7 linked regions of the Homo sapiens genome follow. The protein of the gene in region 1 purifies or fractionates together with the protein of each later gene. This does not show direct contact. Each region holds a gene or a part of one and is shown in the gene's direction. Other genes may lie near its edges.

What was found.
Region 2: the proteins of USP33 (region 1) and KRT72 purify together in Homo sapiens (affinity purification with mass spectrometry, with the first as the bait; one large-scale study listed by BioGRID). This does not show direct contact.
Region 3: the proteins of USP33 (region 1) and USP42 purify together in Homo sapiens (co-immunoprecipitation; one large-scale study listed by IntAct). This does not show direct contact.
Region 4: the proteins of USP33 (region 1) and EPAS1 purify together in Homo sapiens (affinity purification with western blotting; one study listed by BioGRID). This does not show direct contact.
Region 5: the proteins of USP33 (region 1) and PRPF38B purify together in Homo sapiens (affinity purification with mass spectrometry; one large-scale study listed by BioGRID and IntAct). This does not show direct contact.
Region 6: the proteins of USP33 (region 1) and SRBD1 purify together in Homo sapiens (co-immunoprecipitation; one large-scale study listed by IntAct). This does not show direct contact.
Region 7: the proteins of USP33 (region 1) and TRIO purify together in Homo sapiens (co-immunoprecipitation; one large-scale study listed by IntAct). This does not show direct contact.

Annotation. Positions count from the first base shown.
Region 1 is NC_000001.11:77,748,842-77,753,352, reverse strand, and holds part of USP33 (ubiquitin carboxyl-terminal hydrolase 33), read left to right. Parts: intron 1-4,511. UniProt on the Homo sapiens protein: Deubiquitinating enzyme involved in various processes such as centrosome duplication, cellular migration and beta-2 adrenergic receptor/ADRB2 recycling.
Region 2 is NC_000012.12:52,594,461-52,598,971, reverse strand, and holds part of KRT72 (keratin, type II cytoskeletal 72), read left to right. Parts: coding exon 1-74; intron 75-4,511. UniProt on the Homo sapiens protein: Has a role in hair formation. Specific component of keratin intermediate filaments in the inner root sheath (IRS) of the hair follicle.
Region 3 is NC_000007.14:6,145,534-6,150,044, forward strand, and holds part of USP42 (ubiquitin carboxyl-terminal hydrolase 42), read left to right. Parts: coding exon 1-123; intron 124-614; coding exon 615-715; intron 716-2,205; coding exon 2,206-2,359; intron 2,360-4,049; coding exon 4,050-4,511. UniProt on the Homo sapiens protein: Deubiquitinating enzyme which may play an important role during spermatogenesis.
Region 4 is NC_000002.12:46,355,972-46,360,482, forward strand, and holds part of EPAS1 (endothelial PAS domain-containing protein 1), read left to right. Parts: intron 1-179; coding exon 180-331; intron 332-752; coding exon 753-837; intron 838-4,511.
Region 5 is NC_000001.11:108,694,792-108,699,302, forward strand, and holds part of PRPF38B (pre-mRNA-splicing factor 38B), read left to right. Parts: intron 1-910; coding exon 911-979; exon of another isoform or gene 980-989; intron 990-1,251; coding exon 1,252-1,403; intron 1,404-1,485; coding exon 1,486-1,546; coding exon of another isoform or gene 1,547-1,560; intron 1,561-2,769; exon of another isoform or gene 2,770-3,018; coding exon of another isoform or gene 3,019-3,058; exon of another isoform or gene 3,059-3,066; coding exon of another isoform or gene 3,067-3,072; exon of another isoform or gene 3,073-3,226; intron 3,227-3,812; coding exon 3,813-4,036; intron 4,037-4,370; coding exon 4,371-4,511. UniProt on the Homo sapiens protein: May be required for pre-mRNA splicing.
Region 6 is NC_000002.12:45,415,158-45,419,668, reverse strand, and holds part of SRBD1 (S1 RNA-binding domain-containing protein 1), read left to right. Parts: intron 1-1,127; coding exon 1,128-1,304; intron 1,305-4,511.
Region 7 is NC_000005.10:14,482,342-14,485,841, forward strand, and holds part of TRIO (triple functional domain protein), read left to right. Parts: intron 1-240; coding exon 241-432; intron 433-2,727; coding exon 2,728-2,905; intron 2,906-3,500. UniProt on the Homo sapiens protein: Guanine nucleotide exchange factor (GEF) for RHOA and RAC1 GTPases. Involved in coordinating actin remodeling, which is necessary for cell migration and growth. Plays a key role in the regulation of neurite outgrowth and lamellipodia formation.

The DNA of each region.
Region 1 (4,511 bases):
GCCTCCCAGAGTGCTGGGATTACAGGTGTGAGCCACCATACCCAGCAAGACTGGTTACTCTTTTTATTCTGAAACCTTGAAACCTAGTGTTCTGTTGATTAATTGAGTAGGAATTGCTACTTCTTCAAGGGTCTAGAATCCAAATACCTGACCCCCTTTTTTGGTCTCAGTTTATATGGTTGATTCTTTGAATCCCAATGTCGAATATCACATCCATCATTATTAAATTTCGTCCTGTTAATTTTAGCTAATTTTTTTTATTTTTTATTTTTTGAGATGGAGTTTTGCTCTTGTCACCCAGACTGGAGTGCAGTGGCATGATCTTGGCTCACTTCGACCTCCTCTTCGCGGGTTCCAGCAATTCCCATGCCTCAGCCTCCCAGCTAGCTAGGACTACAGACGCACACCACCACGCCCTGCTAATTTTTTGTGTTTTTAGTAGAGACAGGGTTTCACCATGTTGGCTAGGCTGGTAATGAACTCCTGACCTCAGGTGATCCACCGGCCTCGGCCTCGCAAAGTGCTGGGATTACAGGTGTGAGCCACCACGCCCAGCCAATTTTAGCTTATTTTAAAAAATAGTTTAATTTTTCTTTAAAAACTTATTTTTATAATTTTAAGTTTATATTTTACTAGCCTGCCTTCTGTAGCTTTATCCAGGTTATTGTTAAAAATATTGAGCAGTTCTGACACCTGCTAGTGAAGACCTCCTGCATTCATATTAATCTTATATGTAACTATTAAATAGCTACCAATCCTTCTGACATAATTTTTTTTCTCTGTAATGTGAATCTGACTTTTTATGAAGAGCTTTACTTTTTGGAATAGACTAGGCAATGGAATTCAGGCAGTTTCTCAATATTAAAAGCTCCTTAGGTTACCAACTATGTCCTGATGTGTAATTATTATATTAAGGCCAGGCGCAGTGGCTCACTCCTGTAATCCCAGCACTTTGGGAGGCCGAGGTGGGTGGATCACTTGAGGCCAGAAGTTTGAGACCAGTCTGGGTAACACGGTGAAACTCCGTCTCTACTAAAAATACAAAAATTTAGCTGGATGTGGTGACACATGCTTGTAATCCCAGCTACTCAAGTGACTGAGGCATGAGAATTGCTTGAACCTGGGAGGGAGAAGTTGCAAGTGAGCCGAGATTGCGCCACTGCACTCCAGCCTGGGCGACAGAGTGAAATTCTGTCTCAAAAAAAAAAAAAATTGTACTAATAACATGGTTCCCTATACTTTTCCTAATATTAAAATTTGAATAGCTGATTGATTATCTTCTATTAGGATAAGGGGTCAGAATTTCAACCTGGAATTTGGAGATTGTACTACGAAAATATTCTCCCCTTAAAAGTAATATCTTCGGGCGCGGCGCGGTGGCTCAAGCCTGTAATCCCAGCACTTTGGGAGGCCGAGGTGGGCGGATCACGAGGTCAAGAGATCGAGACCATCCTGGCTAACACAGTGAAACCCCATCTCTACTGGAAATACAAAAAATTAGCTGGGTGTGATGGCGGGTGCCTGTAGTCCCAGCTACTCAGGAGGCTGAGGCAGGAGAATGGCGTGAACCCGGGAGGTGGAGCTTGCAGTGAGCTGAGATCGCGCCACTGCACTCAAGCCTGGGCGACAGAGCAAGACTCCGTCTCAAAAAAAAAAAGGTAATATCTTCAGAAGCAGTTTTGTTTTGTTTTTGAGACAAGGCCTAGCTCTGTCACTCAGGCGGGAGTGCAGTGGTGCAATCACAGCTCACTGCATGCAACTTCTGCCTCCTGGGCTCAGGTGATCCTCCCACCTCAGCCTCCTGAATAGCTGGGACTGCAGGGGCATGCCACCAGGCCTGGGTAATTTTTGTATTTTTTTGGGGTAGAGACAGGGTATTGCCGTGTTGCCCAGGCTGGTCTTGAACTCCTGGGTTCAAGCAGTCCTCCCGCCTCAGTCTCCTAAAGTGCTGGGATTACAGGTGCGAGCCACCATGCCCAGCCCAGAAGCAGTTTTGCATTTACTTTAATGCAGATGAGCAATTTAGCCACCGGAGCTGTACATCATAGAGCGTGAGTGCAGTCGTTTTCATCTGGAAAAATTTTCAGTTGGTGTTGCTGCCATCATTATTGGTGAGAAAACTTCCAGTAGTCCAGTTAGTGTGGCAGATAGAGGAAAAAGCTGCCAGATACAAGATTACAAAGATAAGGACAAACAGATAAAATCTTGTGCACTCTTTGTGATTTCCAACTTGTAAGTCACAAGCTTCTACAGGAGTCTTAGTTTTGCAAAATCTACTTCTGTGGATTGGACAATAGCATTTCCATATACAACCATTTTCTGTTTTTTTCTAATGTCTAATACTCATCTCCTGTGATTAAATTATCAGACAAGAATGGAAGCATACATGCCTTCTTTCTTTTGGTGTACAATTTGAGAAGAAATTGAAGTAGCTAAGAACTCCCATTGTCTTACCCTACTATATCTGAATGCCCTACCCTCAATAAACATTTGTCAAATAAAGGAATAAAAGAATGATTTTATTACCTTAGTAAATAAACTGAGTAAAACTAGGCAAAGAAAATACTAAGGGTTTTCTATTTTGATAGCATTGTATTATACGGGATACTAAATATCCTTGGGACAAATTGTTAGCCTTTGTTTACATGCACTAATTCTTTTCCTTTTTCTTTCTTTCTTTCTTTCTTTCTTTCTTTCTTTCTTTCTTTCTTTCTTTCTTTCTTTCTTTTTTAAGTCAGGGTCTTGCTGTGTTGCACAGGCTGGAGTGCAGTGGTGCAATCTTGGCTCACTGCAACCTTTGCCTCCTGGGCTCAAGGGATTCTCCTGCCTCAGTGGAACTACAGGTGTGCACCACCACGCTGGGCTGATTTTTCTATTTTCTGTAGAGAGATGGGGTTTCACCATGTTGCCCAGGCTGGTCTTGAACTCGTCAGCTCAAATGATCTTCCCGCCTTGGCCTCCCAAAGTGCTGGGATTACAGACCTGAGCTGTCATGCGTGGCTGCCCAGCCAATTCTTTCTTTCTTTCTTTTTTTGGAGATGGAGCCTTGCTCTGTTGCCCAGGCTGGTGTGCAGTGGCGTGATCACGGCTCACTGCAACCTCTGCCTCCTGGGTTCAAGTGATTCTCCTGCTTCAGCCTCCCGAGTAGCTGGGATTACAGGCACCCACCACTATGCACGGCTAATTTTTGTATTTTTAGTAAAGAAGGGGTTTTGCCATGTTGGCCAGGCTGGTCTCAGACTCCTGAACTCAGGTGATCCACCTACTTCGGCCTCCCAAAATTCTGGAATTACAGTCATCGCACCTGGCCCTGCCCAGCCAATTCTTATTAAATTGTTTAGATAATGCAAAATTAATAGCAGAGCAGAGAGAATGTATTTATGTTTTATTCTTTTTTTCATCTCAGCTATCAGCAGAGAGAATTTATTTTAATCTTATTTTTTGCTTGAGATTTTAGAAAAAAATATTTATCTTGGAAGTTTCTTTTCAATCCTCTGATCCCATTTCTTTCCTCTGAGGCAAAATAGTATTGCCTAAAAAGCAGTGAGAAGAACATCTACATTTCATTGGCAAATGCAGAATTTTTACTTTAGAGGAAAATACATAGCTTAAATACTTTCAGTAAACAAAGCGCTCAGTACTCATCTTTAGGGATTAAGAAAATAAAACCAGGCTGGGTGCAGTGATTCATGCCTGTAATTCCGGCACTTTGGGAGGCTGAGGAGAGTGGATCACCTGAGGTCAGGAGTTTGAGATCAGCCTGGCCAACATGGTGAAATCCCATCTCTACTAATAATACAAAAATTAGCCAGTCGTGGTGGCACACGCCTGTAGTCCCAGCTATTTGGGAGGCTGAGACAAGAGAATCGTACGAACCTGGGAGGTGGAGGTTGCAGTGAGCCAAGATTGTACCACTGCACTCCAGCCTGGGCAGCAGAGCGAGACTCCGTCTCCAAAAAAAAAAACAAACAAAACAAAAAACATAAAAAAATACAACCAAAGGCAAGTAGGATATGGATATTAATGGAATTGAAAACAGATCAGAACAAAAATAGTGGAGAAGATAAATAAATCCCAAATCTGGTTCTTTGCAAATACCAATGATCTAGATAAACATCTTGTAGAAGAAAAAGATATGGAATAAAAATGTACAAGATTGGGAATGAGTAAACACCATAGACCCCAAATACAGGAGACATTAATGGAATCTTTTGCAGATTTTCTTGAGAATATACATGTAATGCTATACTGTCAAAGTTATTTCAAGAGAAAATGGATGTTGTTATAGCAAAATGTCAATGAGTAAAATTGACCCAAGAAGTAAAAATGTTAATTGCCCAATCCCCATGAAAGGTTTGAAAAAATGATGGAAGATTGGTTCTTGACAGAGGCAGCATAGCATATAATTTCACAGCTGAGTTTCATTTATGAAGAACAACACATCATTATAATAAAAAGGAACTCTCTTTTCCATGATGAAGAATGCAAAGCTAGTCAATGCATTCTGTGAA
Region 2 (4,511 bases), on another chromosome or scaffold:
CTGTCTGGGGACGGGGTGAGGCTGGATTCGGAGCTGAGGAACATGCAGGATTTGGTGGAGGACTACAAGAAGAGGTGAGTGAGTGGCAGGGAATATGGCCCTGGAGGATCTGATTTCAAATGAGGTTTTCGTTTGGAGATGGCATTTTTGCTTCTGAGATCCTTGCTGATACCGGGGGAGGGAGGAACATCCAGACAGAATGGAACTAGGAAAAGAATAGATCTACCTACACCGGTTCTCCAAACTGTCGAGGAAATGTGTGCTCAATTTCTAGCACTGAAAATGAAGGAATGGGGGAAAGAGAGTTGTATCAAAACCAGATGGACAACCCAAATGCCTTTGTAGTTCCTCCTGAGTGAAGTTTTCCATGGCAGTTCCCAGAATGTAAGACACCCCACCAATTCCAGGGCAAATTTTAAATCTAAAAAAAAGAATTTAAAAAACTTATTCCATGTTGAATCATGGCTGTGCTGCTGAATCCTGGCTTTAAAGAGAATAATTGAGAATGTTTGAGGATGATTGAGAATGAGATGGAACCAGAGGTTGTGTCCTCCTCCAAGTTGAGCTGAATATGAGACAGTAATAAATCAAGGCTCAGTGTGACCTGATATTTTGGAAGTTTGCTTCCAGATGCCAGGATTTCTAGGGACAGGTGGCTTCTTCCACAATTCAAGTGGCTGGAGGTCGTCAGAGCTGAGTTCTTTCTCTTGCTCCATATTCAATCTACCTGCCCATCCCTATTCTGAAATTCCTTCAAAGCAGAACCCTGGCCCAAGCCCTGCATGGAGAACCTAAGGAAGGAGGAGACACGGTCCCTGACCTCAGAGAGCACACAGATTGTGAGGACAGGCTTAAAGAACAGTTTCAGATAGCCACCAACAAGAAGAAACAAATATGGTGTGAACTGAGATAGGTGGAATTAAGATGGGAACTGGAGCCCAACTAGAGATGCAAGCAGGGTCTGGAAAGAACAGGGGGCTGCCAGACACAGTCCTGAAGTCCCACATGGAGGCGTCCAGGGGCAGTGCTATCTCTGGGCCTTTCAGACTGGAGTGGCTTTGTGCTCCTGAATCACCATGAACTAGTTGAGCAACCACAGATGAGTCTCTGTGTCCTCTGTGAACTTTAGTTTTAGTATTTATGAAAACTAAATACTGATACTTGCCTTGCTACCTAAAAGAGCTATTGAGAGGATAATGCCAGCCAGACAGTAGTGTATTAGCAGCTTTGAAAAGAATCCAAGTGCTACACAAATGTAAGGCATTGTTTTCCCTATGTCAGAAGGCTTGGATTTGAATCCTAGCTTCACTAGTAACTAGCATTTTGACCTTGGCCAAGTATTTTCATGTCTTTTGCCTCATCTATAAAATTGGAATAATAATAGAATCTACTTCATAGGGCTGTCGTGGGGATTAAATGAAATAATTTGTGCTAAGAATTTAGCACAGTGTTTAGCATGTAGTAAGGGGTACAATAAATATTAGCTGCATTTACTAGGAGTATTTTAAAACTGATTTTATCACCCATCTCTTCCACCTGTGGGTCCTCATGCCAGGTTTTTGCATCTCTCTTATGATATATCATAAGAAATGCTAATCATATGTCATTGTTGAATTAGAATTTTCAGTGCATTTGCCTTCCTGTTAAACTGTGAGTTTCTAGAAGATGCACAGTGTATATGTCTTAAGCATCATTGTATACGCTGAAGCTTTTCTCATAGGCTCTCTAAAATGATTTTAAAAAACTCTTCACAATTAAAACATTTCACAGTTAAAAAATTGAAACTACAACCTTTTAATCATAAGTGTAAGTAGTTTCAAAGGGTGTAATTTCAAACGTATTATGTGTGTTCCCATTTAAAATTGTAATAGCCACATCACTCATTGAGATGTACCCAATTGCATCCAGGTGCTGCAGCAGGTTAGCGCCCATCACCCTTCATCTAAAAAGCCAATGAATGGGCTCTGCTTTAAAAATCATAACTTTTACCTTGATCCTTTTCCTGTTTGGACTCCAATTTTCATCCCACTTTCCCCACATAATTTTGTTATAATATATTTTTATGCCTCTAAGTCTTTTATTGATCACCCTATCACAAAATATGCATGTATCTCGAAACCTTAGAAAGTTTACTTCTTGTGGCCTGTAATCCCAGCACTTCGGGAGGCTGAGGCACGTGGATCATTTGAGCTCAAGAGTTCGAGGCCAGCTGGCCAACATGGCGAAACCCTGTCTCTACAAAAAATATAAAAAATTAGCCGGGCATGGTGGCGTGCGTCTGTGTTCCCAGCTACTCAGAGGCTGAGGCATTAGAATGTCTTGAACCTGGGAGGCAGAGGTTGCAGTGAGCTGAGATCAAGCCACCGCACTCCAGTCTGGGTGACAGAGCAAGATTCTGTCTAAAAAAAAAAAAAGAAAGAAAAAAAGAAAGTTTACCTTTTGTGATCATAAGTTTTTAAATGTCAAAAGACTTATTTTGGGTTGAGTTATCCAAACAACGAAATGTATTGCTAATTTTGTTAAATAAGTATTAAACATAAAAAATGAAAAAAAATTGAAAATACTTTTCCTAATGAGTTGAATGGGGCAGATTTTTTTCTAAGTGGCTTAGTTATCCATGTATGAATATTGATTCTTATTGAGCTGAGATAGGATTCTAGTCCTGTGTGTTTTCCATTCTTAGGTGAGTGCTGGGAAACTTTAATTATAGAAGTAGATTTTAATGGAAGGAGTTTTGCAAGCCCAGTGTTATTTAGTTCTCGGAATGCCTTTCCAGTTTTTCTGCTTTTTCTTTCTTCCATAGTGCTTACTGTTTCTAACATGCTGCATGATTGACACAACTTATTTGTTGTGTTTGTTATTTGTCTCTCTCTGCTTCTTAAGGGCAGGGATATTTGTTTTGTTTTGTGCCTACAAAGTACCCCACACTCAACACATATTTTCTTAGGTGAATGATTACATGTCAAAATCACATAATGACTCACCATTAAAGATCATGTTTAACCATCTGTCAGCTGACAATTCAAATCCTTCTTTTTTTGAAAGCAAAAATTAAAAACCATCTGACTTGCAAAAAGAACTTGTTTCCTAGTCAGTAAAGTCATTATCTTCCAAATTTCTGGAAAATTTTTCAATAAGGCTTTACCAAGACTGATCAAATGGCCATGCTTATACAACTTATTCTGTCCTTTAGGAGCACCACGTTTAATCCAATGGATCAGAAAGAACTGGAAACATAAAACATTGTTAGTACTCAATACACCTATGCCAATTCTTTATCCTTAAAAAATAATGTGATTCTGCCTCATGTTTTTGTACACGAATACACACACTGGCACATTTTTGAAACTCTGGAGCTGCAGATTTACCTCATTCAATTTATATAGAAAATATCTGCCCTCTAGCTTCATTGGAAAAACCAATTTTCATATTCAAATCAGAGACATGAGTTGCTTTTCATCAGAAAAATCCTGACTTCATTTCTAAATTCAAGTAAAAGTAAGAATTTGTACTTTAGGGACTGTTATAAAATCCACTCAGAATAAACTAAGAAATATGTCTTGTATAATAGGTTATTGAAAGCATTCAAGATTAAAATGATTTAGATTTAATATAACTAATATAACTATTTATGTTATAAAACAAGAGAAATCAATATGTACTTTTTAATGATTTAACTTTTAATTATTCATTGTAATATATTTTTAAATAATAAGTTATTTTTAAGTTAATAATGCTATAAAACTTATTTTTCTTTTTAATGTGTGTATTGAACTCTGGTGTTTGGCCTCTAGAAGTAAATAATGTAAAATTATTTACAGCTAATGTCATTGATTTTGATAGCCCACTTGGTCAAAAGTTTTCTATGTATTTTAGGAAATAGATATAAACTACTAAAAATTAATTGGTCCGGCAACTACCATATGTCTTATTTTTATTAAGAGGGGGTAGACATTATTAATCTTTTTGTAAGATAATATAAAATAAAGATTGACTGTAATAGAAATAGCTGTTTCATGACATAATTTGATTAAAAGGTTTCAGTTATCTTTTGAATAAGACACAGAATCTGGGATAAATCATATAAACTGCTTTCTGTGTGTTTTATATAGCATAACTAGAAAGATCTGCAGCCTCAGAAAACATCCCAGTCACATTTGAAATAGCTCCCTTCACTACCCTGCACTGCTCAGCCATTCAACAGTGCTTTTTTTTTAAATTATTATACTTTAAGTTCTAGGGTACATTTGCACAACGTGCAGGTTTGCTACATATGTATACATGTGCTGTGTTGGTTTGCTGCACCCATTAACTCATCATTTATACTGGGTGTTTCTCCCAATGCTATCCCTCCCCCCACCCCACAACAGGCCTCGGTGTGTGGTGTTCCCCTTCCTGTGTCCAAGTGTTCTCATTGTTCAATTCCTACCTGTGAGTGAGAACATGCGGTGTTTGGTTTTCTGTCCTTGCAATAGTTGCTCAGAATGATGGTTTCCAGCTTCATCCATGTC
Region 3 (4,511 bases), on another chromosome or scaffold:
TATCTTGATATTCGGCCATATATGTCTCAACCCAACGGAGAGCCAATTGTCTACGTCTTGTATGCAGTGCTGGTCCACACTGGTTTTAATTGCCATGCTGGCCATTACTTCTGCTACATAAAAGTAAGCTGTGCAGATTTGCTATTAACTATTGTTACATACATGCTATAAGACAGCAGTAGCATTCTTGGGGTAGGGAGAGGTGGAACTTTTACAGTTAAAATGTGAATACCCGAGGTAAAAATATTTCTCTTGGCCGGGCGCAGTGGCTTACTCCTGTAATCCCTACACTTTGGGAGACTGAGGCTGGGGGATCACTTGAGGTCAGGAGTTCAAGACCAACCTGGCCAACAGGGTGAAACCCCGCCTCTATTAAAAATACAAAAATTATCTGCGTGTGGTGGCACCTGCCAGTAATCCCAGCAGCTCCGGAGGCTGAGGCAGGAGAATCGCTTGAACCCAGGAGGTGGAGATTGCAAGATCACGCCACTGCACTCCAGCCTGGGTGACAGAGTGAGACTCCATCTCAAAAAAAAAGAAAGAAATATTTCTCTTGACTATGTTCCATGTTTAATTAAATCTAATCTCTCTCTTTTATTGGCTCTCATTTATAGGCTAGCAATGGCCTCTGGTATCAAATGAATGACTCCATTGTATCTACCAGTGATATTAGATCGGTACTCAGCCAACAAGCCTATGTGCTCTTTTATATCAGGTATTGTCATGAAAACAAATTGCCAGATTTTCTGGTATGTCATTTCTTCTTGTCTTATCAACATGTTTGAATTCAATATTCAGTGTTTTAAAAAAAAAAAAAAACCCAGCAGCTTAAAGATCAACTCTAGCCTGGGCATGGTGCCTCACGCCTATAATCCTAGCACTTTGGGCGGCCAAGATGGAAGGATCACTTGAGCCCAGGAGTTCGAGACCGACCAGCCTGGGCAACATAGTGAGACCACATGTCTACAAAATACGAAAAAATTAGCCAGGTGTGGTGTTGTGGGCCTGTGGTCTTATCTGCTCCGAAAGTTGAGGTGGGAGGATTACCTGAGCCTGGGGAGGCCGAGGCTGCAGTAAGCCATGATTGAGCCACTGCATTCCAGCCTGAGTGACAGAGCAAGACTGTCTCAAAAAAAAACCAAAAACCATCAACTCTGCCATGTGCCTGGAGAGTAAGAAAGGTAGTGTCTGAGCGGGATGATGAGTTTGCTCCGCATCGCACTCTGTGGCCATGAGCACTGAAGGTGCAGCTGCAGGGAGAGGTGGTGGCTGACAAGGGTGGGCTTCTGCTGCGGGCAGTAATGGAGTGGGCCAGGAGCCACAGGACAATGAGTGGAGACCTCAGGAAGGGACCTCTGAGCACCTGGCGTGGTCACAGCCAGCACCTCCCAACCTGGAGCACAGGTCAGTTGCCTTCCAGGCCAAGGCCAGCACCCGCACCCAGCTCTGTCCTGTTGTGGCTGCATACGCTTTTCACTCACTCACTCGCTCCATTTTTGGAAAAAATGTTTGATAGCTGAAAATCAAGAATATTCTCAAATGTCCAACTGGCAGAATGCTCATGTCTGCACATTGAAATATTAAACACTGGCATTGGATTTCGGCAGTTGGGCTGAAGCACAGATGATGATCAGAGGAGGCCTCAGGCCAAGTTGAGGGGTAGGATTTTGTTTCTAACTTTTTTGGACACTAGATTTTCCACAGTGGCATATATTTATAATTAGAAAAATATAAGCCTGGGCAACAAAGCGAGACCCCATTTCTACAGAAAATAAAAAAATGAGCCAGGCGTGGTGGTGCATGTCTGTGGTCCCAGCTACTCAGGAGGCTGAGGCAGGAGGGCAAGGCCACAGTGAGCAATGGCTGTTCCTCTGCAGTCCAGCCTGGGCGACGCAGCAAGACCCTGTCTCAAAAAAAGGAAAATATAAATAAACAGAAAAGAAATACCTTTCAGATGAAACAGCATCTTCAGAAAACACAGTTTAAAGAACGTCATTTACCCAGTTATCCTTGTTGTCTCCTGATCTGAGTGCCTGACATTAGCCTGAAGGAGGGGATGTGTATAGCTCCATACTGTGTAGCATAAACATGCTATTTTTTTCATCAGGTTTCCGCCTGAGGGGTTAAATGCTGTTGACTTTGTAAATGAATCTCTCCTAAGGAGGTGTCCTGTGTCACCCTAAGTATCGCTCTCCTTGTTTCCAGGTCCCATGATGTGAAAAATGGAGGTGAACTTACTCATCCCACCCATAGCCCCGGCCAGTCCTCTCCCCGCCCCGTCATCAGTCAGCGGGTTGTCACCAACAAACAGGCTGCGCCAGGCTTTATCGGACCACAGCTTCCCTCTCACATGATAAAGGTAACAGTCCTTAGGGAGAAGAACATTTTTATGTTAATTTTTAAAATGTAACTTCAAACTCTCAAGTTGAATTGTAGTGGTTGCTGTGTCCTCAAATACATCTGAATTTCTTCTCACAGTTTAATCAAACCCTCTTACACAGTATTTCAAATATACAGAAAACGGCCGAGCGCAGTGGCTCAAGCTTGTAATCCCAGCACTTTGGGAGGCCGAGACAGGTGGATCATTTGAGCTCAGTTGTTTGAGACCACCCTGGGTACCAGGGTGAAACCCCGTCTCCACAAAAAATACAAGTATCAGCCGGGTATGGTGGTGTGTGCTGTGGTCCCAGCTGCTCAGGAGGCTGAGGCAGGAGGATCACTTGAGCCCAGGAGGCAGAGGTTGCAGTGAGCTGAGATTGCACCACTGCACTCCAGCCTGGGCAACAGAGTGAGACCCCGTCTCCAAAATAACCCCCCAAAAAAACAAAAACCCCAAAATATACAGCAAACCTCACCAATGGGGAGGAAAGAGGAAAGCCTGGGTGTCAGCACCTTTAAATTTTAGGTCCCCTCTGGACTTCCATTCTTCTCAAAGGGTTAAACACTTGGAGATTCTTTAATTCCTGTCGGATTGCAGGAAAGCGATCTGTTTACAAGAACACGTTTGTTAGGTCCATTTAGTCGTTTCAGGGGTGTGGTGTTTCTGTCTGCTCTCCCCCTGGGTTTGATTTTACTCCCTGTTGGTCCTGTCGGGGCGAACAGTAGTGAGCTAGTGTCACAAGGAACACAGGATTCTAGAGTGGGGGCCTCATCTGAGCTGTGGCATCTTCACAGCTTTTCGACTTGAGTTTGTTTTGGATGATCACACACACGGTCTAGCTGCATGCTTTATTTTATGGACATCAGGCAGTATATTTGAGGTATAACAGAGTCACACATCAAATGCCCAGCGGGCTCCCCTTTTGGGCTCTGCTCCAGAGTGACATCAGGACTCTGGCAAACAGGAGGGCATGTGCCCTGTAGGAAGGGGTGGTTGGCATTGCTTTTCCAAAGCCTGTTTTTGTTTTTACCATGAAGCTTTCCAGTGTTAGGATGGCAGCTAATTCAGGTATGTGAGGAGACGCTGGGAAGGCCACACGTGATCTGTTAACTGACTTTCACGCCTGCGCCTCCACGGGGGTGCAGCAGCCATGGGGGAACCTGCAGCGAGTCTCACTGCGTGAGGAGAATGTGGAGACGTTGTGGGGCAGTGGTGGGGTCATGGCTGAGTGAGTGGCGGCTGAAGCAGCCCCTACTCTCCGCCCACGTGACCGTCTCCTTTGCTCCGAGGCGAGGGTGATTCCTCCTTCCTGGCACTCTGCATCAGCGAGCTCCCAGGAAACCCAACCAGGTAGCAAGTGTGTGACTCCATGCCACAGGTCCTGCTGATTTCGATCAGATCTGGGACAGAACGAGTTTGGTCGGAGGATTGTTTTCTGTGAAACATGTATGTCCTGTTTGTTGATTTATTGCCAGAAAACTAGGGCCTGTGGAAAGTATGCGCGGGTAGGAGGGATTGAGAAAAACAGAGAACATTTCCAGGTGTATGAAACTTGTTAGTCCTGAAAAAAAAAAAAAGCAAAATGGGAAGGACCCATCAGCCAAAATGGGTTCTGTTTGTGTGACCATGTTTCTGGAGCTCTGACCAGGTGCGCTCTGCTTACTTCCAGAATCCACCTCACTTAAATGGGACTGGACCATTGAAAGACACGCCAAGCAGTTCCATGTCGAGTCCTAACGGGAATTCCAGTGTCAACAGGGCTAGTCCTGTTAATGCTTCAGCTTCTGTCCAAAACTGGTCAGTTAATAGGTCCTCAGTGATCCCAGAACATCCTAAGAAACAAAAAATTACAATCAGTATTCACAACAAGTTGCCTGTTCGCCAGTGTCAGTCTCAACCTAACCTTCATAGTAATTCTTTGGAGAACCCTACCAAGCCCGTTCCCTCTTCTACCATTACCAATTCTGCAGTACAGTCTACCTCGAACGCATCTACGATGTCAGTTTCTAGTAAAGTAACAAAACCGATCCCCCGCAGTGAATCCTGCTCCCAGCCCGTGATGAATGGCAAATCCAAGCTGAACTCCAGCGTGCTGGTGCCCTATGGCGCCGAGTCCTCTGAGGACTCTGAC
Region 4 (4,511 bases), on another chromosome or scaffold:
CTCTGTGCAGTGGTGCCTGCTGCCAGGCGGAGGCAGACATTCAGATGGTTGGCAGTATGCGTTTCCAGAAAAGTCCACCCAATGCCTTTGCACCATCCCTGGCAAATGCCTATCTGTGCCAGTCCCATCTGTTTTCACTCCACATTCATGCAAGCTGTCCCACCCCCCCCCCTTTCCAGTTTGCTCTGAAAACGAGTCCGAAGCCGAAGCTGACCAGCAGATGGACAACTTGTACCTGAAAGCCTTGGAGGGTTTCATTGCCGTGGTGACCCAAGATGGCGACATGATCTTTCTGTCAGAAAACATCAGCAAGTTCATGGGACTTACACAGGTGACACCCTCCTCTATCTCTTTCAAAAGAAGAAATGTTTCCATTTGGGGGTAGAAATGAGTGGAAGGTGCTAGCCACAATCCCACTTGACCTCTCCCTGCAAATGCCCACGGTGACCCTCGCTGACCTCAGGCCACACGCCTCAGGCCACGCTCCCACCCCCAAGCATTGGGTTTGGCTTTGCTCATGTCCATCCTGGTAGACAGCTCTCTACTGACTCATTAACAGACCAAGTCTCTGTCATCATCAGTAGTCCCCGATTACATCTTTCTGTCTGTGGACCTGACACTGGACTGGGATTATGAGAAAACCCAATTCAGTCTCCTCCCTGCCTCCAAATCTGGAAGGTGGCTCAGCTTACTCTTGGAGTCTTTTACTTCACTGTTAGGAATAATGATGCCTAACCTTGTTTTTGAAACAGGTGGAGCTAACAGGACATAGTATCTTTGACTTCACTCATCCCTGCGACCATGAGGAGATTCGTGAGAACCTGAGTCTCAAAAATGGTATCCTTAATTGTGTTTACTTCCTTCTTGCCCCCACTGGGTGGGAATCTGCCTCCCCTTTGTCTACGGGTATAAGGGAGATAGCTCATGGCCCTTGTGATGCAGGAAAAATGGATGTCCTTAAAAAATTTAAGTATGTAGCCTGTGAGATGAGATTGGGGCATTGAGAGGATCCAGTACTCAGAAATATCTCCTGCTGGCCCTGCATGGTGCCTGGTGTCCCACTACTAGGGGACACCTTTGGGTTAGGACACTGTCTCTAGGAGGTTTCATCACCCAAGAGTCAAGCATCTCTGCCAAATGACACCACCCAAACCAATGAGGAACTAGTCTGTGCCAAAGTGCTCATAGTAACTACTGTAGTTATCTATTGCTGTCTAACAAACCACCTATAACATAGGGCTTTGATGATTATCTCCCAGGGTTCTGTGGGTTCAGTGGGTGGGTCTTGTACTCCATGTGATGTCAGCTGGGCTGCAGTCATCTGGGGGCCAGACTAGGCTGGGGTGATCAGGATAGCTCACACACGTCTGGGACCTTGTGGCAGGTGGCTGGAACCCTGGACTCAGTTGGCATGCTGGGACAACAGGACTGTTCTCTCACTCTATGGAGACTCAGAGACTCTCCCTCTCCATATGGTGTCTCTAGGGTAGCCAGACATCTTACGTGGCAGTTTAGGGCTCCCAGAAGCACTAAAGTGGAAGCTGCCAGGCCTTCTGAAGGCTTTGTCCCCAGATTGGCAGAGCATCACTTCTGCCCCATCTTGTTGGTTAGAGCATGTTACAGGCCAGCCCTGGCTCATTGTGGGAGGAAACTACACGAAGCCATGAGTGTCAAAAGGCATGGCTTGTTGGAGCTACTTTTGGAGAAGAGCTACCACAGGAAATGGTACCCTGATGAGACGCAGGTCAAGTAGGTTTTGATGGAGAAGAGGTTTAAAAAGATGTAGCATTCAGGACCTTACCCATGGGGATACCCAGCAGGTGCCAGTAGATGAGAGGACCCACACAGGCAGAAAGCACGTTGCAATGGTTGCAATGGCAGTGGAGCTTCCTGTCTTGTAACTGTGGCCATTCAACAAAGGCATGAATAGGGACATTGTTAAGAGGACTGAAGCTTTGGTCAGAATTGGGGCTTAATGACTGTCAAGGTCCCTTCCAAACCTGAGATTCTGTCACTGGTCTGGGGAGATTCTGTGCATGTCTAGATGTCCTCTTTAACAACCTCACCTGTCACTGCCATGGGGCTTGTGCTTGTCCAGCCTGAATAACAGAGGCAGTGAGGCTAAGCCTACAAGGTTTGGCTCTTATTACCACACACGCTGCAAAAACAGACACTTCATTGGCTCACCTCCACCCTATTACAGACTGAGTCTGCAGTCCACATTTGGGCCTGCAAAGTACAGAATCACAACCACCTCCTCTTCTACCACTGCCACAGCTCCCTCACCCAGCTCCTCTGCTCTCTCTTCTGCAGGCCTTAGACCACCTGGGTCCTAGGGTACACTGGCAGAGAGCACCCTGTAGGCTGCTCAGTGTCTTGTCTGGTTCTGTGGGGAAAGGGCTACCAGACTTTCTAAAGCTCTCTAAAAAGAGGATTCATGTTCTGCATGGGTAGGTGCTTGAAGCCTGAGAAAGCCTGAGAAAACCAAAGACTGATTTCTTCTGTACTCCAGAAACCCTTTGGCCTTTGGGTTCTTAGTGTCAGTTCAGCCACTGACCATAGTCTGAGTTTGAGTCTGTGACCAGAAGCAAGTACCCTACTTCTCTGTTCCTCAGAGTCTTTCTTTTCAAATTGATGGTATTGGACTAGGCAAAGGCGACAACCTTTCAGTTCTCAAGTGCCATGATTCACAGCCAAGTGACCTCTAATTATCTGAGTAGAACTTTAGATCTCTTGATCTGCATATTGAGGACTTGGGATCAGTCAAACTCAATGCAACAGCAAATCTTCACTGAAGGTGCCAGCCTATGGGTGGACTCGTGATCTAGACCTAAAGGGTTAGTGTGAGTTCCTAGAGGAAAAGAAAGCCATGAGGCAGATTGTGGAAGGCTTTGAAGGCCAGGTGGAGGGCCTTGAACTTTATTCCATAGACAATGGGGAGCTATTGAAGGTTTCTGTGCAGGGGTGGAGTGATCTGTGTGGAGCAGTGTTTAGAAAGAATGAACAAGGCCAGGCACGGTGGCTCACGCCTGTAATCCCAGGACTTTCGGAGGCCAAGGTGGGTGGATCACGAGATCAAGAGATCGAGACCATCCTGGCCAACATGGTGAAACCCCATCTCTACCAAAAATACAAAAATTAGCTGGGCGTGGTGGCGCGTGCCTGTAGTCCCAGCTACTTGGGAGGCTGAGGCAGGAGAATCACTTGAACCCAGGAGGCAGAGGTTGCAGTGAGCCAAGATCACGCCACTGCACTCCAGCCTGGCGACAGAGCAAGATTCTGTCTCAAAAAAAAAAAAAAAAAAAAAAAAGATCAAATGTCAGCATGGGGAGAATCCAGAGGTTAGCAAGTTAAGAGGCCTCAATAATACCCCAGCAACAGCCACAAATGAATCCCTCCAGCCCCCTTATACCCAACAACTGGTCTGGTCCTGGTGGTGGGGCCAGATCCCAAGATACAGGTATATCTCATTGTATGCTAACCCCACCTCTGAAAATTAAAATGGCAAGAATCATAATTTGGTATGGGAGAAATGGTTTTATAATCGTGATGAAGGAATGTTCTCTCTTTTTTAAAAAAATTCACTATTCAGTCTGTTACTGAGTGGGGTCCCCTAAGGATGTTGAAGTTTTGTTCAAGGGTGCCACAGTTCCTTTGACACATAACTCTTCAGGAATATGTCAGTCAAGATCCTCTGGAAGTTTAAGTGCAGGGGCTGGTGACTGTTCCTGGAGGAAGGAGTGTGACTATTCGAAACAAGGCTCTAGATTGTTCTATGATGCTGGGTAGGGGGCAGGATTATATCTTTGAAAGTAGGTACCAGAGATGGTGGTGTAGGCAGGATTTAGACACAGACAAGTGGGATTCAGCTGGCACTCTTCATTACTTTGTTTTACAAAAAGTGGAAAATGGTTCTGAATCGGGAGGCTGTTTGGCAACTATAAGGAAGTAAGCTATATTGCTGGTCTTGGTGATTTAATTTTTGCTGAGAGAGAGGATATGATCCAGGTTGAGTTAATCCATAAAGTGGACTTGCTCACCAAGTCCACTGTAAGGAGATTCGTACCAGAGTTCTCTCTAGAGCCTTGATACATATGTCACTTCAGGGACAAAGCTAATGGCATGGTATCCTGAACACAGCTATTGCAGTTTGCAAATGGGGTACAGGAGGGGTTAAATTCCTCCTGAGAGACAGGTTATAAAGGAAAGACGGGAGTGTCGGAGAGACATTTCTAACCTGTGAGGAAGGCTTACACCCTTGGAGTAACTGTGGCCTCACTCAGACTGTCCCTTGGAATTTCTGCGAGAAGACCTGGGCCTGCCCCAGGAAAGGGTGGCTGAGTTAGTGGCTGATAGGCAGTCGTTGTGTCGCTGCTCTGAAGGCACCACTGACCATGTTCCAGATGCAATGGGAAATCAAATGATGGAGCAGCTCCTCCCTTGTGGGAGTTTATGCTCCAGTTGAGGAGATAAGCTTGAGAGTGGGAACCATTAGTTCACAGGCCATGATG
Region 5 (4,511 bases), about 31 Mb from region 1:
AAAGACCTTTTTGGATTCTATTTTAGAGTTAATATTCTTTTGTTGTTGTTGCTGTTGTTGTTGCTATTTTTAGATAAGGACTAGTTTTTGTAAGATGTTCCTCTTAGCAAATATGATACTGTATCATCTTTGATGATACTTAGTATATGCCAGTGACTATTCACACTCAGTTTTTGACACAATTTATATTCTGGGGAATAATTGGATTGGTTCACACATAATTAGGCTGAAGCTTAATTACAACAATGATCTCTGTAAGTGTGGCCTTTGTAATTTTATCTTTAATCAGGAATAAACCTGACCCTGGTGGAAAAAATGTACAAATAAAAAGTTCCATAATTTTGCATCACAAGTAACTCGTTACTGTTTTAGAAAATTTTCTTCAAGTAATTTTCCTTAATTTTATAATGTAGATTTTAAATTACAATAAAATTGAACTATTGAAGGTGTTTTGAAGTTTTTAAATTAATGCTTAACGTTAATACTTTTTGCTTTAAATTGGAGACTTAAATCCATTTTTAAAGGAAAATGTTAAGCAACCCATAAGTTAAATTGTCAAATATTATCAAAGTTAAAATATTACCAAATAGTTTTTGCAACCAAGTGAGACTATAGAAATTTTCTGACTCCCAGATGTAGATATCAGCTCTTTATAAAGCTAGTTGAGTGGGATTTCTCCTCTGCAAAGCTATTAAGGTTTTGTTAAACCCTAGTAGCTTTATGGGTGCTGTCTAAATGTCTAAGCAGTTTTTCCAAAAATGATTTACACACTTAATATCAGTAAACATATACTTAATGCCAAAATAATTTTGGAAGAGCTGCTCTATTATGGACTTGGGTTTACTTTTATCAGGCTTTTAAACAAATTCAAAGTATGAATGTTTGTTGTGTTCCTCTTTTCTATTTTCAGGTCACGCACGTTGAACCATGGGAGAAAGGAAGCAGGAAAACAGCGGGCCAGACAGGGATGTGCGGAGGGGTAAGTAGAAGTACGTGCATTTTTCAGTTTTTCTGTGTCTAATAACTAAGTTTATATTTAGAGAACTAGAGGCCTGTCAATTATACACTTGAGTGACAATTTTTTTAATCCAAATTCAAGTGTTCAGTGAAATAGGGTTAGAAAAGTGTTACTTTTTAATGCTCCTTAGTTCTGGATTATGGATTGTTATTGATACCTAACAGGATTAATCAATTGGTGTTAAGAGTCCGTTAATTATTTTACTACTTTTTCTTAACTCGTTTCCCCTAAAGGTTCGAGGTGTTGGAACAGGAGGAATTGTTTCTACAGCATTTTGCCTGTTATACAAATTATTTACCCTGAAGTTAACTCGAAAGCAAGTGATGGGTCTTATAACACACACAGACTCTCCATATATTAGAGCGCTTGGATTTATGTATATAAGGTGAGCGTACATTTATGTACATTTCCAGTAAATATCTCATTTTAATTCACATGTGTTTAATAATAGTCTTTTGTAATTCTAGATATACACAGCCCCCTACAGATCTGTGGGACTGGTTTGAATCCTTCCTTGATGATGAAGAGGTATGTCAACAAGGGTAATAATTTGTTTTCTTCTGATTACTCTCATATTTTTATTATCTTTTATTTATTGGTGGTTTAATGTCTTCAAGAACTTCCTGTAGTTAAATTTATTTCAGTGAGATACTTTTGGAATTAATGTCCTTTTACTGAGACCTGATGGCTTTTATGTATTTTAGGGTAAATTTCTGAAGTTTTATTTTCTTGTTTTAAAATTGTTTAAATGTGTTTGGTAACTATTGGAAAATTTTCTCTTCTTAATTATGTTCTGTGTATTGTATTGATCCTGAATTGTATAGTTAATAGTGACTTTTCAAGATGGGGCATGCTCAAGATCGAACAGATAATAAAAGATATGCACATAGAATACTAATTGTAGCTTTTTTTTCTTCTGGAACATTTCAGTTCTTCACCCTCTAGCTTCTTCCAAATATCAGTATTCCCACTTGCATAGAAGTGCAGAATTGAAGAGTTGGGTGTTACATAAATAGGCTAAGTGTTTGGATGACTTGTTCAAGGTGACAAAATTTTAATTCCAGTTTTCTGACTCCTAGTACACCACACACACCTTTAAAAAAGAAATTTTTTAAATTGTAATTCGAGTCTCCCTAATTTGAAATCTGAAATACTAAGTTAGATTTAAATCGTGTATGCATTGGCTGGGCGTGGTGGCTCACATTGTAATCCCAACACTTCGAGAGTTCAAGACCAGCCTGAGCAATATAGTGAGACCTCATCTCTACAAAAAAAAGTTTAAAAATTAGCTGAGCATAGAGGTATGCATCTTAGTCCCACCTACTTGGGAGGCTGGGGTGGGAGGATCACTTGAGCCCAGGAGACAGAATTTGCTGTGAGCCAAGATCATTGCCACTGCATTCCAGCCTGGGTAACACAGTAAGACCCTTTCTCAAAACAAAACAAAATATCATATATGCATTAATTTACTTGCATGGTGAAGTCCAACATGTCAAAAATGAAATGATGAGCTGTATTGTCCCTATGTCTACCCAGTCTACTACTTTGTGTTTTAAGGTTCATAAGACTTTTTGAGTGCTATGTGTCAGTAGTCTATTTACAGAGTTCATCCAAAGAATTTATTGAATTAAAGGATGGTTCTAATGGAAATCTATTGTGTTTTGTTATTACATGCACACCTAAAAAAAAAAAAAATCTCATTTAGACATGGAGAATTTTTATTTTTCTCTTTTTTTTTTTTTTTTTTTTTGCCTGTTAACTGAGTTACTTCACTCAGAAGAAGCAAAACGTGTTTTAAATCACAATCTTTAAGGTCTTTTTATCTTTAGATCAGTTTTTCAGACTGAAGTGCTTCTCCCTTCTGTCTTTAAAAAAGCATGTTCCTCTTCATAATTGGTGTTGTATTGGTTTTGTTTCTGGATGCCTCTATTTTATGTTTTTTATTGTGTTTACAAATCTGAGGTCCTCTATTTAAGCTAACTTATTGTTTTCTTCCTTAGATATCTGCAGCGATTATATTTGGAAATACTGTATATCTGAACACTTAAATGTGTGTGAGTGCAAGCAGTTTTACCTTTAGCTCTTGTTTTCCTGTTTAGATAACAAATCTCACTTTCCTTGTGTGCTTGCACTATAGGTTTGGGACTGACAATAGCTGACTAACATGTCCTGAGCTGTGAGAGGGCATAGCAAGAAGGCCTTCATGCGGTAATGACCCTTTTCAGAGACAATGGTCATCATGGATTATGCGTTTCCAATTATTTGTTCATTTATTTATTTTCTACATAACTAAATTAGAAACCTCACTGCTTCATGGCAGTTGGTTTGCTATTGCTTCCAGTTTTATTAGGGCTTCATTTTATATTAGAGCTGTTAAAAGATAACCTTTAGACAGGAATTATCTAAAGTAGATCATATGTAGCTAGGTTATGGTGCAAGGTATATGATGTGTGCAAATATGTCCACAGAAATAAATACATAGTAGGTATGTGGAATGTAAATTTAAGTCAATCGTTCCGCATAGTTTAGAAATGTAAGGGGCTTTTTCATATTGTTAACTGAGTGAGATCAGTTCCCTTTATGCCTGTGAGGCTGCAGGGTTTGTTCTCACTTGCATGCACACACTAAGCCCAAATATTTCTGTTCATTCATTGTCAGATCAGGATATGAAAATAAAATTTTTCTGTTAGTTTTTTTTGTATTGAGATTCCAAAGATGGTAATATTTTTATAATATTCATGTATATATGGAAATACTTTTTTTGACGGCTAGGGTATCTTTTGTGTTTCTGTAGGACCTAGATGTGAAGGCTGGTGGAGGCTGTGTAATGACCATTGGAGAAATGCTACGATCTTTTCTCACAAAACTGGAGTGGTTTTCTACCTTGTTTCCAAGAATTCCAGTTCCAGTTCAAAAGAATATTGATCAACAGATTAAAACCCGACCTAGAAAAATCAAGAAAGATGGGAAGGAAGGTGCTGAGGAAATAGACAGACATGTTGAACGCAGACGTTCAAGGTAATGTCACTCTTGAATTATGCTTATTTTTCATATATGCTTTATACAAAATTAATGGTTCTGAGAAATAGCAAGTTCTTAGGAATTTGTTTTTACTGTTCATTTTATTAGTTTGTCACTTTTACCCCCCAAAGATTATTTTCTTCCTTTCAGGGCTTTTTCTATAAAATTATGCATCTGTAAATGAGAACAATAAAATTTTTTGCTTTAATGATTCTTGACATGGCCTTAAGCTTGAGGACATGAATAAATAATGCTGTTGAAAGTTTTACTGTGAAAAGAATTGCATATGTTTTATTCATTGAAATTTTCTTTCTCCCTCCGCCTTCCTTAGGTCTCCAAGGAGATCTCTGAGTCCACGGAGGTCCCCAAGAAGGTCAAGAAGTAGAAGTCATCATCGGGAGGGCCATGGGTCTTCTAGTTTTGACAGAGAATTAGAAAGAGAGAAAGAACGCCAGCGACTAGAGCGTGAAGC
Region 6 (4,511 bases), on another chromosome or scaffold:
TTTATACATTGCTTTAAGTAATCAGAGGGGAAGACATCATTTAAGAAAAGAATTATAACAATTCACATTATCATTTTTAATATTGCAGGTCTAAAGTGAAGAGCATATGGTAACCATTGAGTGTATTAGTGTTGCTAATAGAATTTAAATAAGGTTAACATGGAAAAGAGCTGTTTCCCACCACGTGAGAGTAGAGATTTTTCACTAGTTAAGCCTCTTGCATGCATCTGTCAAACCTGGCAGTAACCAAAAGATAAATTCTGAGGGTTCAAGGTATGGTTACCATATTTTTACCCTGATTCCACAAGAAACCTGTCAAAATTTTTATCATACTATAATCGCATGTTATATAATCTTCTTTTCCCCCATGGTTTTAGAAGAGCTGCTTTTTTGTTCACAGTTTTGCATTTATTACACAAGTCTGCTAATGCAGCATGAAATTCCCTGATCTGGACCGTTTTCACTGAAACAGGTATAGCAGAAACTGTCCCTTACATTTTAAGTTGTTGATTTTCTAACACATCTACAAACATTTCATAATTTCATATATGGAATTTTATAATAGAGTTGAGATTCTCTGAAATAATCTTTTGACACCAAGCAAACTACCTAATGATATAGTCTTTGTATATAATTTATACTAACCATGACAATTATAGATAAGGGCCTTTCTGTAGTTCAGCTCTATATTACTGAGAACAGGCTAACACACAAAAAAGGTAGTACAACACAGTTGTAGCTATTATAACTTCTTCTAACTCACTTTGTATGTATGCTGAAAAAAATAGGCAAAATTATTACTTTATCCAGAAACATAAGGAATGTGAATAGTATAGAAAAACTAAGGAACATTTTTTTCTTGCATCAGTGTTAGCCTTCTTACCAGCATCTTTATGACAGCTGTTGGTTTTGTCATTATTTTTTTATTCTGTTGTCCTTCTTTCCTCTTGCACAACTCTTTTTTTCTCCGTTTTTTTTTTGTTTTTTTTTTTAAACTCCCTTTTGGATTAACTTAACTTAGCCGTATGAGGATATGTCATTGCAGTCGTTTTTATGATCCAAATGTTTTATATCATTGTCTTTTCAGATGAGATCTTTTTTTCAGTTTGCTTATTTTTTTTTTCTAGGCATATTGCAGGACTCAATGCCAACAGGGCCAAAAATATTATTGAATGGCGAGAGAAAAATGGACCCTTTATCAACCGAGAACAGCTGAAGAAAGTGAAAGGGCTGGGCCCAAAATCCTTCCAACAGTGTGCTGGCTTCATCAGAATCAACCAGGATTATATCCGAACGTTTTGCAGGTGAGTATAAGTATACACTTTGATTCTATTGTCAACCTCCTCTCTTGTTACTGTTACCTATCCTACCACTGATTAGTGTAAAATTTTCTAAGTGTCCATTGTTCATGCCTTCATTCAGTTAAGTGTTGAGTGACTGTCCTTTGGTAGGCATTGGGAATACAACAGTGAGCAAGTCAGCAAATTCCGGATTCTCATGGAGTTATATTTTAACATGTGACACAGACAATAAGCAAACTAGTAAAATTAGTACTTTCAGATGGCAAGAAGTGCTATAAAAATTAAAGCAGGGATATGTGACACTGTCTTAGGAGAGTAATACAACTACTTTAGATTCGTTATTTTTTGAAAACTTATTTGAGCAGAGTTTTGAATGAAATGCCATCCAAGGATCAGAAAGAGAGCATTCCAGGCAAAGTGAACACTAAGTGTGCACAGTCCTAAGGCAGGACCAACTTTGGTGTATTCAGGAAATGAGGCAAAGGCCCACACAATTAGGGCATAGCAAATGGGAAGGACTGGTACAAGATGAGGTGACAATGGTGACTTCAAAATGACCACTTTATACTGACATAGCTGTTCCCTAAGCATAGATATGTTTCCCCACTCCCTCCTCACTGAAAATGGACCAAAGCATTGATTATCAGTTGTGTGGATCAAGAGCTAAATTTCTTTATTTTCTAATCCTGAAAGCACAAAAGCTTGTTAGATAAACTTCTTAGCATGATATAATCATGAAAGAAGAACATTTACGTATCTGCTACTTTGGGACTACGTGGTTAATTCATATGGACTTTATAATTTTGACAAAATTATAATAGAGGTCATATGGAAGATAACCTTTCTTCTGGAAAAGACTGATTAAGCCTCACTAGAATACATTATAAAGCTGTGGAAATTAAACAGTTTGCTTTTGATGTAGGAATAGCACAGAATAAGGTCTGAAATCCACCAAAACATGGTTAGAATTTAGTTTGTGGTAAAGGTGACATTTCAAATGGTAGGGTAAAATTGATTAATTATCTAACAAATGATATTATGACAACTGCCAGTAATTCAATATGTGTGAAGGAAGCTGTAGTCCCACTTCTCACTCCTATACCCAGATAAATTACAGATTTATCATAGACTTAAATGTCAAAAAAAGTAAAAAACTGTAAAAGCACCAGAAGAAAACATGGGGAAATCTTGCAGAGCATTAGAGTGATGGAAATTCTTTCTAAATAGATCATGAAACCTAGAAGTCACAATTGAAAAAAATTGAAGATAAAATGATTCTGTTTTTGTTAGTTTATATGTTCTTTGAACACTTGGTTAGAAAACTCACAGCATAGGCCAGGAGCCGTCGTTCACCTGAGGCCAGGAGTTTGTGACCAGCCTGGCTAACATGGTGAAACCCCGTCTCTACTAAAAATACAAAAATTAGCTGAGCATGGTGGTGCTCACCTGTAATCCCAGCTACCCAGGAGGCTGAGACAGGAGAATTGCCTGAACCCAGGAGGTGGAGGTTGCAGTGAGCCGAGATCATGCCGCTGCACTCCAGCCTGGGCGACAGAACAAGATCCTATCTGTCTCAAAAACAAGCAAACCAAAAAAACACCAAAAAACTCACAGTATAAAAAAAGAACAAAAAGTAAAAGATGCCTCTCAAGTCTCACTTGAAAAAGTTTCTTATATGTTGCTTCCAGAAAGTAAATTTACAGTTATGTCACCTTGTATGTATATGTTTATTATTTTAAAAATGTATACACAAGGGATCAGGCTCTGCAACTATTTGAAACTTGCTTTATTTGTTTCAGTCTTCTGGATCTCTTTCCAAATTATTACATATAGATTTCTAATTTTTTATTCTTTATATTGTCTGCATAAAATTTAATTGTATGGATGGGCTGTAATTTAGTCTAATCAGTGTCTTATTGATGAAGCTTATTTTAAAGCCTTGTACTTTTCCAGCTGATAATTAGGTACTTGAAGATTTGTGACTGTTACATCTCATGAACTATAGGTTTATTCAGAATGGAATATTGCTACCACATTTAATGTTTTTTGCTTTGAAATTTATTTGCTAGCAATGTTACTGTATATGCCTGTTTTTTTTAATTTTTATACTTTCTATGACATTTAATTTTTGATATGGCTCTTAGAAACACATAGCTAGATTTTGTGGTTTTACTCAATCTGTTATTAATACATTCATATTTGTTGTATTTATTTATATGTTTGGGCTTATTCTTCCTACGTATTTTGCCCCTCCATCATGCTTTCTGATTCTTCTTTTCCTTTTACGCTATTTATTAGATTTATCAGTTAATAAGTTTTCTGTTTCTCTCCTTGTTTTCCCATCTCATCTTTATCTCTCCTTAGTGATTTCAAAGTTGTACATCTTCTATTCTTATGATCATCCTTAAATTGGTTTTGGACTGACCTCTGGAGTTAATAGGTGTCTGTCCTCTTAGAGAAGACTAGAAACAGGATCCTTCCCAATCTTTCTCTCTTCAACTCTCTCTGCCTCCCATGATAAGATGATCTGGGATTTTAGTTTCAGACTCCTCTCCTCTCCTCTCCTCTCCTCTCCTCTCCTCTCCTCTCCTCTCCTCTCCTCTCCTCTCCTCTCCTCTCGTCTCCTCTCGTCTCCTCTCCTCTCCTCTCCTCTCCTCTCCTCTCCTCTCCTCTCCTCTCCCGTCCCCTCCCCTCCCCTCCCCTCCCCTCCCCTCCCCTCCCCTCCTTTTCTCTCACTCTCTCTATATATTTTATACATATATAAAAATATTTTATGTATATTTTTGTTTTTTAACCTATATATACGTATACAGACTATATGCATGTGTATATACGTGTGTATATACATATACACATACACACTATATATACACACTCCTCCATATATATAAAATATATTCTTATAGATGTATATTTTTGTTTTTTAAATGTGTGTATATACACATATACACACTATATGTGTGTATATACATACTATATACACACTATATGTGTGTATATACATACTATATACACACTATATGTGTGTATATACATACTATATACACACTATATGTGTGTATATACATACTATATACACACTATATGTGTGTATATACATACTATATACACACTATATGTGTGTATATACATACTATATACACACTATATGTGTGTATATACATACTATATACACACTATATGTGTGTATATACATACTATATACACACT
Region 7 (3,500 bases), on another chromosome or scaffold:
TAATCTGTGACTGTAATTGAGGCGCCAGAGGTCTATACAAATGTTGGCAAGAATTTTATTTAGATAATTATTCTGTTTAGAGCCAAGAACAGTAAAAGAAAAAAAAAATTAAACTCCATAAATTAATAAAAGAAAAATACATTATTCCATAGGAGGAAATCTAAAGAAAACAGCTTCAGATAACTTAGAAGGCAATGTTTTCTTCTCCCCTTCCTTTTCCCCCTTTATTTCTTGTTTTAGGGGAAAATCGTTGCCCAGGGTAAACTGCTCTTGCAGGACACATTCTTGGTCACAGACCAAGATGCAGGACTTCTGCCTCGCTGCAGAGAGAGGCGCATCTTCCTCTTTGAGCAGATCGTCATATTCAGCGAACCACTTGATAAAAAGAAGGGCTTCTCCATGCCGGGATTCCTGTTTAAGAACAGTATCAAGGTAACGTGTGTCTCTGTGTGATTTCTCTGTGCCAGCGCATGTACCCGTCACACCGATACACTGTTTCCTTTTAATGATGACATACCCTGATGCTTCGTTTAAGTATTTGAGAATTTTCTAGTATATTTCAGAGCCTTGAATTCACCCCATTTCTCTTTTTACTGTCTGTGTTCTTGAGTGGCTGATGTCTTGTACACACCTCTGTGTAACCACAGCCATTCATTCTTACCATGATGAGAACTGGTCATGGGTAGTGTTTATGCACCCCCTTCTCTAGGACCGAGGAAAACTGGTTTAAATTTGATAGCACGGATTTGGGGGATTGCTCTATGATCAGAGAAAAAGTTCACTCGGTGTCTTCTTCTCTTCCTCCACTCACCAAGGAGGTACTGAGCACTCAGCAACAGGCGTGAGGGCTCCAGGAATGGCCCAGCTGGATGCCCTCCCTGCCCTGATGTAGCTTATCCTCTAATAGGAAAGGAAGACAGAGGGACAAAGAAAATAATTGCCAATGGCCCTCAAGTCTGTAAAAGGGACAAACCAAGGGTGAGGTAGAGAAGAGCAGAGGGCAGGCCTGAGGTCCCAGCAGATGACTCCTGGGAGATACATGCCCCCGCCAGGGTCCTCCTGGCTCTGCAGCTGTGCAGACCCTGAGGTCAGAAGGGAGATGTACTTCCCTTTGGTAGGGCCTCCTGCCCTACGCCATCAGGGACAGGGAACTCTCAGACCGTGCACACCTGCGGGCCTCACAGCACACAGGCAGAACATTGCGTCCTCCCCCATCCGACTCTCCGTTCAGGCTTTTGTTGGCTGTCCCCAGCAGCCTCCATTTGCCTAAACCTGGGGTGGGTCTGTCCGTGGGCACAGGTGCCAGGCTGGGGGCCTCTGCCCACCAGCACCTAGGAGGGCTCTGGAGCCAAACAGCTGGAGAAGGAGGCCGCCTCTGCATGAGGCTGGGCTGCGGGCCCTCGCACCTCCCACCACCCGCCTGCCCCTCCAGACTCCGCCTTTTGAGGCCCCTCACCCTGAGGCCATGTCAGGCACAGACCCTCTGGGCTCACCACTACACTTGAGCCTCCCATCCCCTGAACTGTGCGCCCATCCCCTGGACGGCAGCCATCATCTGAACTGTGCACCCATGCCCTGAACTGTGCACCCATACGCTGAACTGCACCCATACGCTGAGCCGCACCCATCCCTTGGACTGCAGCCATCATCTGAACTACACCCATCCCCTGCACTGCACCCATCCCCTGAGAACCACCCATCCCCTGCACTGCACCTATCCCCTGAGAACTGCACTCATCCATCCCGGGCACTGCACTCATCCATCCCCTGCACTGCACCCATCCCCTGAGAACTGCCTACCCATTCTTCTCACAAGTCTTTTGGCAGAAAATCACTCCAGCACTGTAGGAATTTCGTATATATTTTTTACATATTTTTATAAAATTATTTGACATATTTTAATCATGATATCACATACAATTTTATAACATAGGTTTTAGTGATATTTGAGATTTGTTTAATGGTGTCATTTACTCCCTGGGAAGTAAGTAAGGATAAATACTGAGGCATCATAGAGGGGTTTGGGAAACAGGTAATCCCAGACGCATATTTCTAGTTAATTGTTCAGGCTGTTAGTTCAAACTATTAGTTTAACAGCCTTGTATTCCCCATGTACCTGAGTTAAGAGGCATTAAAAAGCTTCAGATGTTTTCTGAGGCAGTAAAAATGGCAGTTCAACTGAAAAGTGCTTGTTTCAGGATTGAGTTAGGATGAACTTCACTTTGCACTTGGCCAGTGGGGATCAATGTGCTTTAATTTTTTGTTGTGGTAAAATACACATAACATAAATGTTCCATCTTTAATTACCTAGCTCCATGGGATTAAGAACATTCATGTTTTGCAGCCATCACCATCATCTGTCTTCACAACTCTTCATCTTGCAGAGCTAAAGCCCTGTACCCATTAAACAGTAACTCCCCACTTCCCCACCCCCAAGCCCCTGGCAACCTCCACTCTACTTCCTATCCCCACATTTGACTACTCTAAGGACTTCCTGTAAGTGGAATCATAACAATAGTTGTATTTTGAGACTGGCATATTTCACTTAACATAACGTCTTCAAGGTTCATCCATGTCGTATTGTGTGTCGGAATTTCTTTCCTCATTAAGGCTGAAAAACTGTCCACATAGCCCACATTTTCTTTGTCCATTCATCGGTCAGTGGACACATGGTTTGCTTCCTTTCCACCTGTTAGCTATTATGAATAATGTTTTTTTTTTTTTAAGGTGAGTTGCCTTTGCCTGGAGGAAAATGTGGAAAATGATCCCTGTAAATTTGCTCTGACATCGAGGACGGGTGACGTGGTAGAGACCTTCATTTTGCATTCATCTAGTCCAAGTGTCCGGCAAACTTGGATCCATGAAATCAACCAAATTTTAGAAAACCAGCGCAATTTTTTAAATGGTAATGTGTGTTCTGTTACTAGATGTGTGCTTTCTTTCCTCGTGTACTCACTTGTATTTATCTTCCCTCTCCCATTCATATCCATAGTAATGACAGAACTTAGCACTCACCACTCTTCAGGCACTGCCTAGATATTGCTTTATTTCATCTTCACAACCACCCTGTGTGGCCAGTACTATTATTATTCCTGCTTTACAGATGAGAAAGCTGGGGCACTGAGCGGCTGAGTAATTTGCTTCGAGTCCCACAAGTTGTTGAGGGCAGAGTCAGGACACAGAGTGGCCATCTGGCTCTTGGTCTGTGCCCCTCGCAGCTACACTGTCCCACACATAACATGTACGAGGGCCCAGTCCTAGGAAGAGGAGTTTGCGAGAACACGAGATGGCATTGGCCAGAGACATTCACGAGGGCCTTGCACACCCACACCTCCTTTCCCCATTAAAAAAATAAGAGATGGGGCCAAGCATGGTGGCTCAAGCCTATAATCCCAGCACTTTGGGAGGCCAAGTTGGGCAGATCACCTGAGGTCAGGAGTTTGAGACCAGCCTGACCAACATGGAGAAACCCTGTCTCTACTAAAAATACAAAAAAATTA